3 separate regions of the Homo sapiens genome follow, and regions 1 and 2 are each linked to region 3. The links come from fine-mapping of genetic effects on gene expression. A gene starts in region 3. Each other region holds a variant in brackets. All regions are shown on one strand. Distances are between the middles of the regions.

What was found. PIP is the estimated chance that this variant, and not a neighbour inherited with it, causes the effect.
Region 1: its variant is fine-mapped to the expression of KATNAL1 in whole blood (TOPMed, PIP above 0.99). The same link has a PIP of 0.9 or more in unexposed skin.
Region 2: its variant is fine-mapped to the expression of KATNAL1 in tibial nerve (GTEx, PIP 0.99).

Annotation. Positions count from the first base shown.
Region 1 is chr13:30,193,382-30,197,626 of GRCh38, reverse strand. No RefSeq gene overlaps it. Among named protein-coding and RNA genes, the nearest start is that of LINC00385, 42 kb to the right of the region's middle. The variant C/T (reference allele first, on the strand shown) is at 2,029.
Region 2 is chr13:30,328,921-30,333,165 of GRCh38, reverse strand. The region is part of intron 1 of LOC124903145 (a long non-coding RNA gene); the gene reads right to left. Among named protein-coding and RNA genes, the nearest start is that of LINC00427, 11 kb to the right of the region's middle. The variant G/A (reference allele first, on the strand shown) is at 2,274.
Region 3 is chr13:30,305,099-30,309,343 of GRCh38, reverse strand. KATNAL1 (katanin catalytic subunit A1 like 1) reads left to right here and starts at 1,793. Exons shown (of 11, transcript NM_032116.5): 1 at 1,793-2,013. RefSeq lists silencers at 1,789-2,018, 2,049-2,158.

The DNA.
Region 1 (4,245 bases), 110 kb after region 3:
ATTTTAGGAAAAAACTTTCATGGTAATTCCTTTTTAAAACCAGCACTTAAAATTGTCTTTATTTAAATCAAAATGCAAAACCTCTTGCATTAAGGGAGACTTTTACCTTTTACTTTGTATTTTTTCATATGATAATTATTTACTTTGTAAAAGAAATATAAAATTATAAAAAATTTTTAAAGCAATATTTGTAGACATCAAATCAGTGTCTGCCCTTCTGTCTCCCAGAAGCCCTTGGCCTAAGTAAGAGTCAATCATAGCTCTTGACCCCATTTCATTTGACCCATAGGGCAGGATTGTGTTGACCACTGTCACTGTCACTCTCACCTAGGACAGTGCTCTTCAGGCTTTGTTAACAATAAAGTGTGTGTGAGTTACACACTGTTACTATGTTGGTAGTTTAAGGATACTTGTAAATTATAGTAGTGCTTGTATATAATTTATAAAAATCCATGAAATGTAGAAATATGGAAGACTATAATGTGAAGACACTGAAAAGTAATCTTACTGCTACAAAATCCTTCCAAAAAATAGGAGTAATATTTTCATTGAGAGCCATGACATTAAATATACTTTATTTTTTTTTAAATCTTAGGATAACAATTTAGGGACAATGATTTCATTTTTATTTCAATGCTTAGTTTTAATGACTGTTACAGCTAAAAGTGTAACTTCACAAAGGTGTGTAGATCCAAGTGGAAGAAACAGATTATTGGCTGCAATCTGAAGTAATGAGCTTCATTTTAAAATCATGCCCACTAAGCAGAAGTGTTTATTTGGCTATTTGCGTCTTTCTTGATGTCAGTTCTTGCAAATTAATTGAAAGGTTGCATTTTATGTTGAATGTTCAGAACCTATTGCACCTCTTCATTTGGAAGATTTTAAAACAAACAGGACAATTATTTTAAGTTGCACATATTAGAGTTCTTAAAAAAGAGGCTCAGTGTTTTTGACAACAAAATCATGTAACAATGGAAAAACATTTCCCAACATCACTTTTCTTTATGTAACATGGATTTCTTTCATATAGTAATTATTTTCTCATCCCTTTTTTAAAAAAAGAATAAAGTTGTAGAGTAGAGGAAGTAAGCATTTCATTTAACCTAAATATGTATATGAGCCTGTTTCTGTGCATACAGCAAAAATTTAATAAAACAATAGCTTTGCCTTTATTATATATGATACATTCTGACATTTTCTAATTGGTTTCATTTTGTAAAATTCCTGGACCTGCCCCAGGAAATTGATTTCATTACTTGTTAATGGTGGACAGCTTGCAATTTCAGACCTCCTCCTGGACTGCAGGGTGCCACTGGCTGCAGCCCTGGCCCTCTCCCAGCTTCCTCTGTGCGGATTACTCAGTGACGCATTTGATGAGTGGCCTGGTGAGCAGCAGCAGCCATGCCTGGTTTCCTGGCCACCTGGGGGCTCATCCTTCATGCTATTCCTGACAGGCCATTGTGAGTCTCTTTATCGTTTGAACCTGGCCAATCAGGTTCTCAGGGTCAGGCCCTGGGCATCTGCCCTCTCTCTGCCTTCCTCCCTAACCCTCAAATGCCTGGGGATTCTAACTATCCCAGTGGTGGTTTTCTTGATTTTGATCAGTCTAGACATGATAGTTCTTGAAAGATTTAAGACACGCTTAATTTCTGTTGAGTTTTTATTTCTCCTCAGTCTTAAAATTATTCCTGACTTCTAGATATGATATGAATATGTCACTGTTCATTCCTTTTTAAAAAGTCAGCAGTGATCCCTGTGCCAGTGTCAAAAACAGTTTCTCCATCTGATGTTAAAAACATCCCCTGGGGAAGGACCAGCTCACTGTGCTTCTTGTGCTAGTATAGGACATTTAGATAGCTGCCAGCTCCCTAGGGCAACACAGCTGCTTGGTGACCTCTCTTTGTTCCTGGAAAAGGAATAGGGCTCTTCAGTTATAGTACATGGTATTGGAATCGTTCAAGGGAGGACCAAGAGAGGAACAGAGACTCTTAGTCACTAACAGGAAAGTGTTAAGGTTTGAGAGTCAGA[C/T]TGGAAGGAAGAATCAAGGAAGGAGAGGATCGAGTTTTCAAGGGAAAGGAATCCTTATGTGTTCTGCTGTGAGTGGGTGAAGAAGGTTGACAGAAGCCACAAATAGTTGGTCTTATTTGGACTGTGCCTCCTGTGGCCAAGGCACTGTTCCTGCTATTTGGCTAGATACTTATTGGCTATTTAAAACAGGCCTCTTTTGGATCATGAGATGTATTTGGGTATTGTGAGAACTTCAAGTCTGCAGTCAGAAAACAATTCTAGCCTCAGCTGTACCACTTCTAAGCTGTGGGACTTTGGGCAAGTTACTTATCCTCTCTGTGGCTGTGTTATCTCACCTCAAAATGGAGATGATAACAGGACCTTCCTTTGTAGGACCATTGGGAAGATTAAATGAGATACTGAATTTAAAGTGCTTATCACGGCACCATACAAACCCTTAATGTTAGCTGCAGTGATGTGCGAGGGCTGGTACATACCAGGCTGTCCCAAAGCCAACTGTGGAATGTTAAGGAATGTCGCAAGCCTTTCCACCGTTGATAGCTGAAACTGTAGCCGCGGTGAGAGGATTCACACATGGAAATTGGCAAACACTACACATCAGGGCTTTACCTATCCCCTATCCCCCTGGAAGAGTTAGTTTACCAGCGTATCACAGGTTAGCTCTTTTTATTTTTGTGGAGTTTTTTTCCCCACTGCAAGTAATGCGGGTCCACGTGTGTACCCTGGCTCTTTGTCGCTCCCTCTGAAAAAAGTGGATGCAGTGAGGGTAATACTCCTAAGCTTGCCAGTCGTTGTGAACAGGTCAGTCTGACTTTCAGTGAGCCATTTTTGACTCAAAGAGTGAATGGCTGTTTTGGGGTCTGCCAAAATTAGGGGCCCTTCTCTTCCCTGAACTAGACTATATACTCTGATACTTTTATCGCAGTGTTACAGAAGTCTTAGGATACTAGTAGTGGACAAAAATATTCCCCTTCCCTTTTATTCCCTGAGAAATACAGTCTGAGCTGTATCTAGGCAATACCCACACTGCCTTCAGACTTTTTCCGAAGTGGAGTTCATCAATCATCCAGGAGGCTCTGAGCCCCATGATTGGCATGGCTTACCTAGTGGCCGTGGTAGACATATGCGCATGGAGGCATTTTGCTGAGGGCTTGTGAGAGCTATTTGGCACCTTTTCCAGCAAAGGTGGGAGAGGAAGGAGGAGAAGAGGTTCTGTTCTCACCTATTTTAATACCCGAACCAAAAAATGGAAGTTGCTGGTAGCACTGAATTAGAACTCTTGCCTCATTTAGCACACTAATCATCAAAAGTCTCTATTTTCAATAGAAGCAAAGCATAATTTCTCAATAAAGAGGCACTTCAAATAGGGGATTTACAAACATTACACATTGTCTTTCCTGTTGCAGCTATGAAACATACCTTCTAGAGAAAATCACACAGATTTTGTTTACTTTGCTTAAGAATTGCAGACTAGAGTCATGATTTGTTAGTCTCATTTGCTTTTCACAAGAAAAAGCATTATATAATGTCCGAGGGTCTCAGGTTCCATAACGGGGACTTTCCCAAGGTCTTTCATAACGAAAGTTTCTGTGCAGCCCATGGGAGATTACACAGGGAGGGAGTCTGGAGACTCTCACGAGGACTTATTTTTGTCTATTCTAATTTGAATCTCATACAAGTATTTCTATAGGCCTATTATTTACACCTATATATCAGTCCAACTTACTGAATGCCAACAAATTTGAGACACAACTCCTGTCCTCAAGGAACTCATGTCCTGGTAGAGAAAGCCATGAAGCAGTCATAGGATACTGTGTGTGGTTATAACAGCATGCACCTGAGAAATGGTCTGGAGGAGGTGAGGTCAGCCACGTGCTGAAGCAAGCAGAGGTGTTTGCCAGGTGGCTAAGGAGGGAATATTAACCCAGGGGTGGGTGATGGTCCCCACCTTCCGGATGATTTACTGTATAGTTGCGTTTGCCCCTTAGCATGATTTCTTTGACAGCTGTTGATGGAGAGCTCTGTGAGGACGAGGAGCGCTCTCATTGTTGCCTCCTCCACAGGGTTTTGCAAGTTGTAGGTGCTCAAATCCCCGATGGGAAATGAGAACCTTAGCATACAAAAAAAAAAAAAAAAAAAAAAAACCTCCTTTCTTCACTAGGACCCTGTATGCAAAGCAGTTCCGAAGAGCACTGATAGGAAAAACTGAATTCACTG
Region 2 (4,245 bases), 24 kb before region 3:
TCCCTCTTTTTGCATTAAACATTAGCTTAAGTCACACTTTCCTCCTCCACACCAGGTGGTACTGTATGAAAATACTAAGGTTGACCTTTTTGCAAAATGTAATTGTGCATGTAAATTTAAAATGGTTATATTTATCAATGGCTACTAATGGTGAGTAAACAAGGTATAAGCATGTTAGCTGAAAGAAGAGCTTATTTGAAATATAAATAAGACAACTCATGCATTTGCTCTCTGTTCCTTTTTTCTGCAAATAGCCTGCACTCTGCTGTTAACAGTGACCTTTCCTTCTAGCCCTGTCATTCTATAATTATCTAATATGTTATGTGTGCTTTGCATACTATGTAGACTATACTACACAGAATAGAATGCATATTGTATGCAGTCTGCTAGGCTTACTACCTTTTAATAGTTTACTAGGCATAAAAAGGTTAAGAACCAATAAAGGGCATGCACGCTGCATTAGTCAGCTCTCGCTGTCATAAAAAATATCACTGACCAGGTGGCTTAAAACAACAGAAATTTATTTTCTCACTGTTCTGTAGACTAGAAGTCCAATATCAAGGTGCCAGTAAATTTTGTTTCTGGTGAGGCCTCTCTTCCTGGCTTGCCTGACGGTGCCTTCTCGCCTTGTCCTCACATGGCCTTTCCTCTGTGTGTGTGCTCACATGTGCAGAGAAAGACAGCTCTCTGGTGTCCCTTCTCCTAAGGACACCAGTCCTGTGGGATTCGGGCCCCACCCTTATGATCTCATTTAAACTTAGTTACCACCTTAAAGGCCCTATCTCCAAATACAGTCACCTTGGGGATTAGGGATGCAACATGAATTGTTGGGGGGACACAATTGAGACAATACCGTGTGCAATGCACACACACACACACACCCTTAGGATAAGAGAGAATGAGGAGGAGAGAGGGGAGATGCTCAATGCATTGAAAATGAGGTCTTTAGGGACCTTATTAAGCACACTGCCTCTATGGCATATAGAGAGTAAGCCACATATTAAATTATCCAGCAGTGAATTGACTTGTAAACTGGACACTTTAGGAACCTGTATTTGAAGAGGAGGGAAGATAGATAGGATCAATGTCATTTTTTTTTTCTGAATATATATGTATTCTAAGGAGAGTGAATAAGTGAGTGGGGGACATTGACTGATACTGTATCTGGAAGGAATCTCAAGAAATCATCTGATTTAATGGTTGAAGGTAAGAATCAGTTCTGATGAAGAAGAGGATCACTGATTCAGAATAGAAAGGGGATTGCTTTTCGGAGACTGGTGAGATGCTGGCACTGCAGAGAAATGGGTTAAGGGAAGGTCAGGATTTTAGAAAAGGATACAATTATGTGAAGCTAGGAGTGGCTGGGAAGCCTTCATGTGACTTAGATCATTTTCAAAAGATGACATCCATGAAGTGACTGAAACAAAGGAGGTGACACATGGGCTGTGGGGTTGGAACTACAGTGTCATCTGCATTCTTTGACTTCCATGACTGTCTAAATTTCTGTGCAAATGCAGAACAACAAGACCCTGGACTGTTACTGGCAAGTTGAATGTGTGGGCGCCCTGCCACCAACCCTCAGCTTTCTGGCCAGAGATGTGCTGAAGGGCTCTTCTACTGTTTTCGCTGTGGATAGACATTTATCTTCTGCCTTTCAGAAACCACGCAGGAGATGTGCCTTGCTCAGGGTTTCCATGGGGCGGGCTGGGGCAGTGAGCCAGCCAACCTTTGAAATTGAAGAAGCACAGAAGGCCCATGCCCTTGGGCCGTACTAGTGATCTCAGCAACTGAGACTGAGTTTGATCCTCCAAGCATCTGAGAGATGTTTTATTGTGTCGGTTCCTGGAATAAAGGGAGTATCTTTTTGGGACAAGCACAATAACTTTTGAAAAAGTGCAGGAAAATACTTGCTCCAGAGCTGTTAGGTTTAAAAATGAACAACATGTTGAGAAATCTTTAATTTCTTGAACCTCTGTTTTAAAAAAGAAACCTCCTGATTTTAGAATTCCTTTTGTTGACAAATTAGACTTTGGAATTGTGTGAAGGAAGAACTTTTGCTTTTATTCAAGAATTCATATGTAATTGTCAAGAACTTTGAAGGGGTTGAGATTTTACCCCACTTGCAAGCTAACAAGTTAGCTATTCCAAGTTAGTTTCATGGATAGTGGGAAAAGACGTGAGACTGTTGAGTCAGGGAGATGGTTTATTATCTGCAGCCATAGCAGTAGATAAACTGTCAGCGTGCTTTAAAGAATTTATACTGGCGGCCGGGC[G/A]CGGTGGCTCACGCCTGTAATCCCAGCACTTTGGGAGGCCGAGGCGGGCGGATCACGAGGTCAGGAGATCGAGACCATCCCGGCTAAAACGGTGAAACCCCGTCTCTACTAAAAATACAAAAAATTAGCCGGGCGTAGTGGCGGACGCCTGTAGTCCCAGCTACTTGGGAGGCTGAGGCAGGAGAATGGCGTGAACCCGGGAGGCGGAGCTTGCAGTGAGCCGAGATCCCGCCACTGCACTCCAGCCGGGGCGACAGAGCGAGACTCCGTCTCAAAAAAAAAAAAAAAAAAGAATTTATACTGGCTCCCCACGTCTCAAAAGAGTGATTGAAGAGGGTCAGATTATACATGCAAATGCAGTGGGTTGCATTTTAGGACAGGAATTCTGAGCTTAGGGGACCTGAACAAAGGGCAGTAAGCATGCACGCCCTTGATTTCAGGATTACTTATTATCTCTATCTTCCAAGGATGTAGGCAAACCTACCCTTTGCTCCCAAGGTACATATGATCTCTGTTTTCAAGTTTGTTCACTACAGAAACATCCTTCAAAAGATAGGCCAGAGCAAAGGACAGGCAGTGTTTCTACTCAAAATATACAGAAATGCAGCCCGGCATGGTGGCTCACACCTGTAATCTCAGCACTTTGGGAGGCTGAGGCAGGTGGATCACTTGAGCCCATGAGTTCAAGAACAGCCTGGGCAACATGGTGAAACCCAGTCTCTACTAAAACAAACAAACAAACAATACAAAATTTAGCAGGGCATGGTGGTGCGTGCCTGTAATCCCAGCTACTCAGGAGGCTGAGGTGGGAGGATCGCTTGAACCGGGAAGGTGGAAGTTTCCCTGAGCCGAGATCTCGCCACTACACTCCAGCCTGAGTGATAGAGCAAGACCCTCCCTCAAAACAAAAACAAAAACAAAAACAAAAACAAAAACAAAAACAAAAAAAATACAGAAATGCAAGAGATCCACAGATAATTATATCCCAACAGTAATATGTCATTTAAAACTTAAATTCCTAATAAATTGAATGAAAATGAATAGTTTTACTGTACCTTATTTTCAGTTGTGCCCCAAATCCTCTCTGCAACTCCCCCTTTTTTGAAAACAGTGGTCTTGAAGAGTTTTCTGAATGTCTTATCATTATTGATGCCCCTGGGCCAAAGAAACTTCTTAAACACTGCCGGAGTCTTCTGTATACCGTGGTTTCTGCTTTAATTGTTTCTACCTCAGATTCCTTCTGGCTTAAATATTTCCTCTTTCATGCCTCTGTCCAGGTGACTACCTGCTAGTTATTACCTCTTCTCCACTCCCTGGACTCAGCAATGTTTTCTATCTTCCTACTCCCAACATTTGGTTATTCTGGGTTTCGTGTCATTTGCTCTTGCCTACACGATTTATGAAAGAAGACAAATCCTGACCTTGATCAACTCCACTCCTGAATGCCTTGGCCTCTATCACTGCATAAAGCTGGAAAGAATCTTAAAAGCTGTCTGGTCCAACCTGCTCATTTTACAGATCTGTGGGGCTCTGTGGTCAAATGAACAAAGGAAATACTAAGTTTAAAAAGTTAAACAGGTGCAACCACTTTGGAGAGCTGTTTGGCAGTTTTTATAACATTGAACATATATACCCTATGGTCCAGCAATTTCACTTCTACATGTTTACCCAAGAAAAATGAAAACATATGTCTACAAAAAGACTTACATAAGAATGTTCATACCAGCCTTACTCATTATAGTCAAAACTTGGAAACCACCCAAATATCCATCAACAGGATAATGGATAAACAAATTATGAGATATGTGTGTATATATATATATATATATAATCTCTCTATATATTACAATATAGATGTATATAATCTATCACACTTATTTACATACACAATGCAATACAACTCAACAATGAAAAAAAGAACTACTAATATACACAACAGCATTGACACAACTAAAATATCTTCACACTGAGC
Region 3 (4,245 bases):
ATTTATTGAGCAGCTACACTGTGGACTGAATCAAATAGAATATGAGGATACATATGTGAAAAAATATTATTTTAATAGCTGGCTCCAGAGTTCCTCTTGGGAAGTTACTTTGTGTAGGAAAAAACTTTGGTAAACAGTTTAGGAATGGCAGGTAGCTATGAAGGCACAGATTAGGAGATGGAAATAAAAGTATTGTATAAAGAGAGGAGAGGAGGGGAGAGATGGGACCAGAAAGATGGTACAATAGTGGGAGGTTACAGGTTATGATGAAAAAATGGGGGTAGGTGGTAGGTGGATAAAAATATCATGGGAGGAACTGAAGGACTTTTAAGAGCAGGGATTTCTAATTTTAGGTTTTTTGCATCCTTAATTTAAAACCACTTATCTGCTCCAAACCTTCTAAAGAGTTGGCTATAGAAACAACCAAAGAAAAGGGGCTGATTTCGAAATTATGTGTCAGCAGGAGTAGAGAGAGGAGAGTTGTAAGAGGTGATATGTGGAGAGGTCTAAGTGTTCAGGAAAAGCAAGAACTGAGAGCCAGAAGTGACGGTGCAATCCTTGAGAGGACATTGGCCGTGGGGAACACCACAAGGTGGATAAGGGACTCAGTCAAGTTCAAGAAAATCTCTGTGGTAGGATGACTCAGCTGGATTACAGGAGCCATTTTTGTTATTTTCAACCATAATTTTTCAGGAGATATTCATTACTAGAAAATGACAAGGTCACGAATTCACTCCCCTTCCTCTTTTTTTCTATTAAATTTCTGGGCCTCAGTTTTCCCATCTATAAAATCTAGAGATTGGGCCTAGAATATCTCTGTAGTTTCCATTAGAGTCTATAGCTCTAATAATAATAACAACACATTTTTATGTTCTCTTTTGAGGTAAATTTACATGCAGTGAAATGTACAAATCTTAAATGTCCCATTCCAAGAGTTTTGACAAGTGCATATACTTCTGTAACCGAAACTCTTAGCTATAGAATTTTTTCATCACTACAAAAAATTCTCTCAAACTCCTCCCCGACAGCCAACCACTATTCTGACTTTTATCACTATTGATTAAATAATTAATATTTAATAGCTATTGTTAAATGCTAAGCTTTGTTTTATAGAGCTTCATCAGTATTAATGCGTGTATTTCTTACAAGAGTTGCAAGATGGATATCTCCATTTTTGCAGATCAAAACGTTAAGAGGTGAGAAAGGCGCCTCTGGTCATCAGCTACCAAGCACAGGGGCAGGACGTGAACTAAGAATTCGTTTTAGAAGCCCACGCTCTTAACCTGTTTATCCTAGAGTCCACAAACGATTGCCAAGAAACAGCATAAATCCAAATTCAGTCGAAAGCAATGCCATTTGCAAATTCTAAAACCTCCTGAATAATCCTAAAGGCCATATGCATTCCATCTTATCGAAGGATTCCCTTCTATCCCCCTCCCCAGAGAATGGAGAAAGGGGGTGCGAAAGACTTCAATTCGGTTTGACTGGAGAAAAACACAGAGGTGGCGTAGGATCCACACATCCCTTGGGGGCAGACCCAGCGGCGGACGCCTGGACAGGCGGCGGGAAAGGCGCTGCGACGCCCCGGGTGCCCCCTCCTTCGACGCCACTGGCATCACCTCCGAAAGCAGCAGGCACGAAGGTGCCCTGCCACGGGGGCTGGACGCAGTGGAGGCAGGCTCATCAAGCACGACCAGAGCTCAGTCGGCCACACGTCCTCCTCAATGTCACTGTCTCCCTGCTCTCCCACCCCGCGCCGCTGCACCTCCCTCCCCCCGGCAACCTGGGCGGGAGTCCCAAGCTCCGCCCCAGAGCGGACTCACAGCCCCCGCGCTCCCTCCCGCGCTGCGCCCACCGCGCGGCCGCGGCTGCCATGGCAACACTACGCCGCCGCCGCCTTTTCACGCACGTCGCGAGCTAACGGACTCGGCGGCGGCGGCGGCGGCGGCCTGCGCCCCACCCGCACCCCATCTGGACCGCATCGCTGAATGTGCCCGGACCTGCGCCTTCTGGGTAATGAATCCGAGAGAAAGGGGCGAGGGCGAGACAGCAGGTGGTGGAGGGCTCTAGCCAACAGCCCCTCTCGGCCTCCCACTGCCGGAGACGCCAGGGCAGTGGGCTGCGGGGTTCCTCGGGCGCTGGCTCCCGTGCGGGGACGGGGAGGGGCGCGGGAGCGCCAGGCTCGCGGTGCATCATGGGAATTGTAGTTCAGCGACTCCTCGGGCTCGCGGTCTTGGTGGGGTAGCTCGGACTGGCGAACTACAAAGCCCGGCGGCCCCGACCGCCGGGAAAGACCGATAAACTTTGAGCGGACCGGGACAGAAAAAAAAATCTCTCTTTGTCTTGAGGGGGCTGTTGAGTGGTCGCGGACCTGGGCTCTGTGCGTTGGGAAAGGGAAGTGGAGGTGAGCCTCGGGCTTCCCGCCCTGTAGCTGGGCCCGCCCCAGTTGCAGCGCTCAGCCCCACCCCGGCTGGGCCACCGCCCTGCACAGTCTCAGGGATGAGCAGCCGCCCAAGCTGCAGGGCCTCGGGTCTTCGGCGCCTCTGACCCTCGCAGGTTGCTGCCTTTCGGTGCAGAACCGTATGTATGTCACACATTGGATGTGAGACCTGAGAAACCGTGTTTTAACAGGTTTTTCTCCTTTCCTGGATACGTTTATTTCTGGGTTAGTCATGTTTGTTTTAAAGTAGCTCAGAGGTGTTTGCATATTAAACCCATCAATTGGTAATTACTCAAAGGGCAGTAATGTTTAAAGGTTAAGTGTGGAAATAGATAAAAAGATGTCATTGCGATTATATGGTGGTATCTGGCATTTTTAACTTTTTGCATTTTTGAATTTTATTTCTTGAGGTTCAAGGTTGTGAAATGAGTGCTCCACCCCACCCCCCCCTTGCCAGCCTGAACACTGCCTACACATATTTTGATTAGTTCAGCTTTAAATTACTAGTAACTTTTAAAAACAGACTTTTTTAGCAGTAGGCAGCAATAATTCTTTGATTATTCCAGTGTTATTCAGAATTTCTCAGCATGTTTTCGGAAGGAAAAATACCATGTTTTAATTATTTAGTTAATTCTTTATATATTTTTTATGTTCAGGAGTACACTTGAGTCCTTAGAGTTGACTCAAAGACTTGCTGGTAAAGGAAGCTGACACAGATTTACGAAACCTTCCTTGACGACCCTTTAAAATTTTTTAATAGGTAGATAACCATCCTAGAAATTTGCTGCTTTATGGAGTAAGTTGGAGAATTGTTGATATTATTGTGAGTTTGTGTGTGTGTGTGTTTAAAAACAAAAAGACCACAAATCCTATAAAACTTTCTCTTAATTAAAATGAAGTTGACCTGTGTAAATTTTACTTGAGGTTGCAATTTTGTACAAGGAGGAGATGGAAAGTAGGTTTAGTAAGACAGGTAGAAAACAAAATTGAGGCCTTATGTGATACAACATAAGGTTTGAAGTATTTTATTTATTCATTCAAAATGTGTTAGGAACCTATGTGCCAGGCATTATGCCAGGTGGTGAGAATAAAGAGATGAAAAAAGATAGTCTGTATCCTGCATGGGCAGTCTTGTCATCACAGTAGTGTGGTAGAGATAAGTGCAAGTTGCTCTAGGAGCCCAGAGGAAATAATCACATAACAGTAACATTTATTGAATATGTCAGGTGCTGTGAGGAGTATTTTGCATGCAACTCCTTACTTAATCCTCAAAACAGTTGGTGAAGTAGTTACTGATTTTTAGAGATGAGGAAACAGGCTTTAGAGGCCTTGCTCAAAATCATAGCTGGTAACGTGTGAACCTGGGATTTCAGCCCAGGTGGGTCTGGTCCTGATCTCAAGCACTGACCATTCTCTGTCATTTAGTAGAAAGATCCTGACTCTGTCTAAGGAAGTCAGGGGAGGCCTTCAGTGTGATTTGACTTTTAACTTGTGTTAAAATAGTTGAATAAGCTTTCACTGGAGTGATGATGAGGAAAGTCATTCTAGGACAAATGGATGGCACAAAATAAGCAAAGGATAGATTGAAGAATCAGTATTTTGTATTTGGGAAACGCTAGGTAGTTCTGAATGACTGGATCCCAGAATACTTGCAATTAGTGGGTGAGGCCAGATCTTAAAGTACTTGGCACCATATTCAGAGTTTAGAATTTTTCTTGATATAGGGCAGTCATTGAAGAATTTTAGCTAGAGTGGTGGTGGCGTCAGATTTGTATTTTAGAAAGATAACTCCAGCCCCAGTGTAG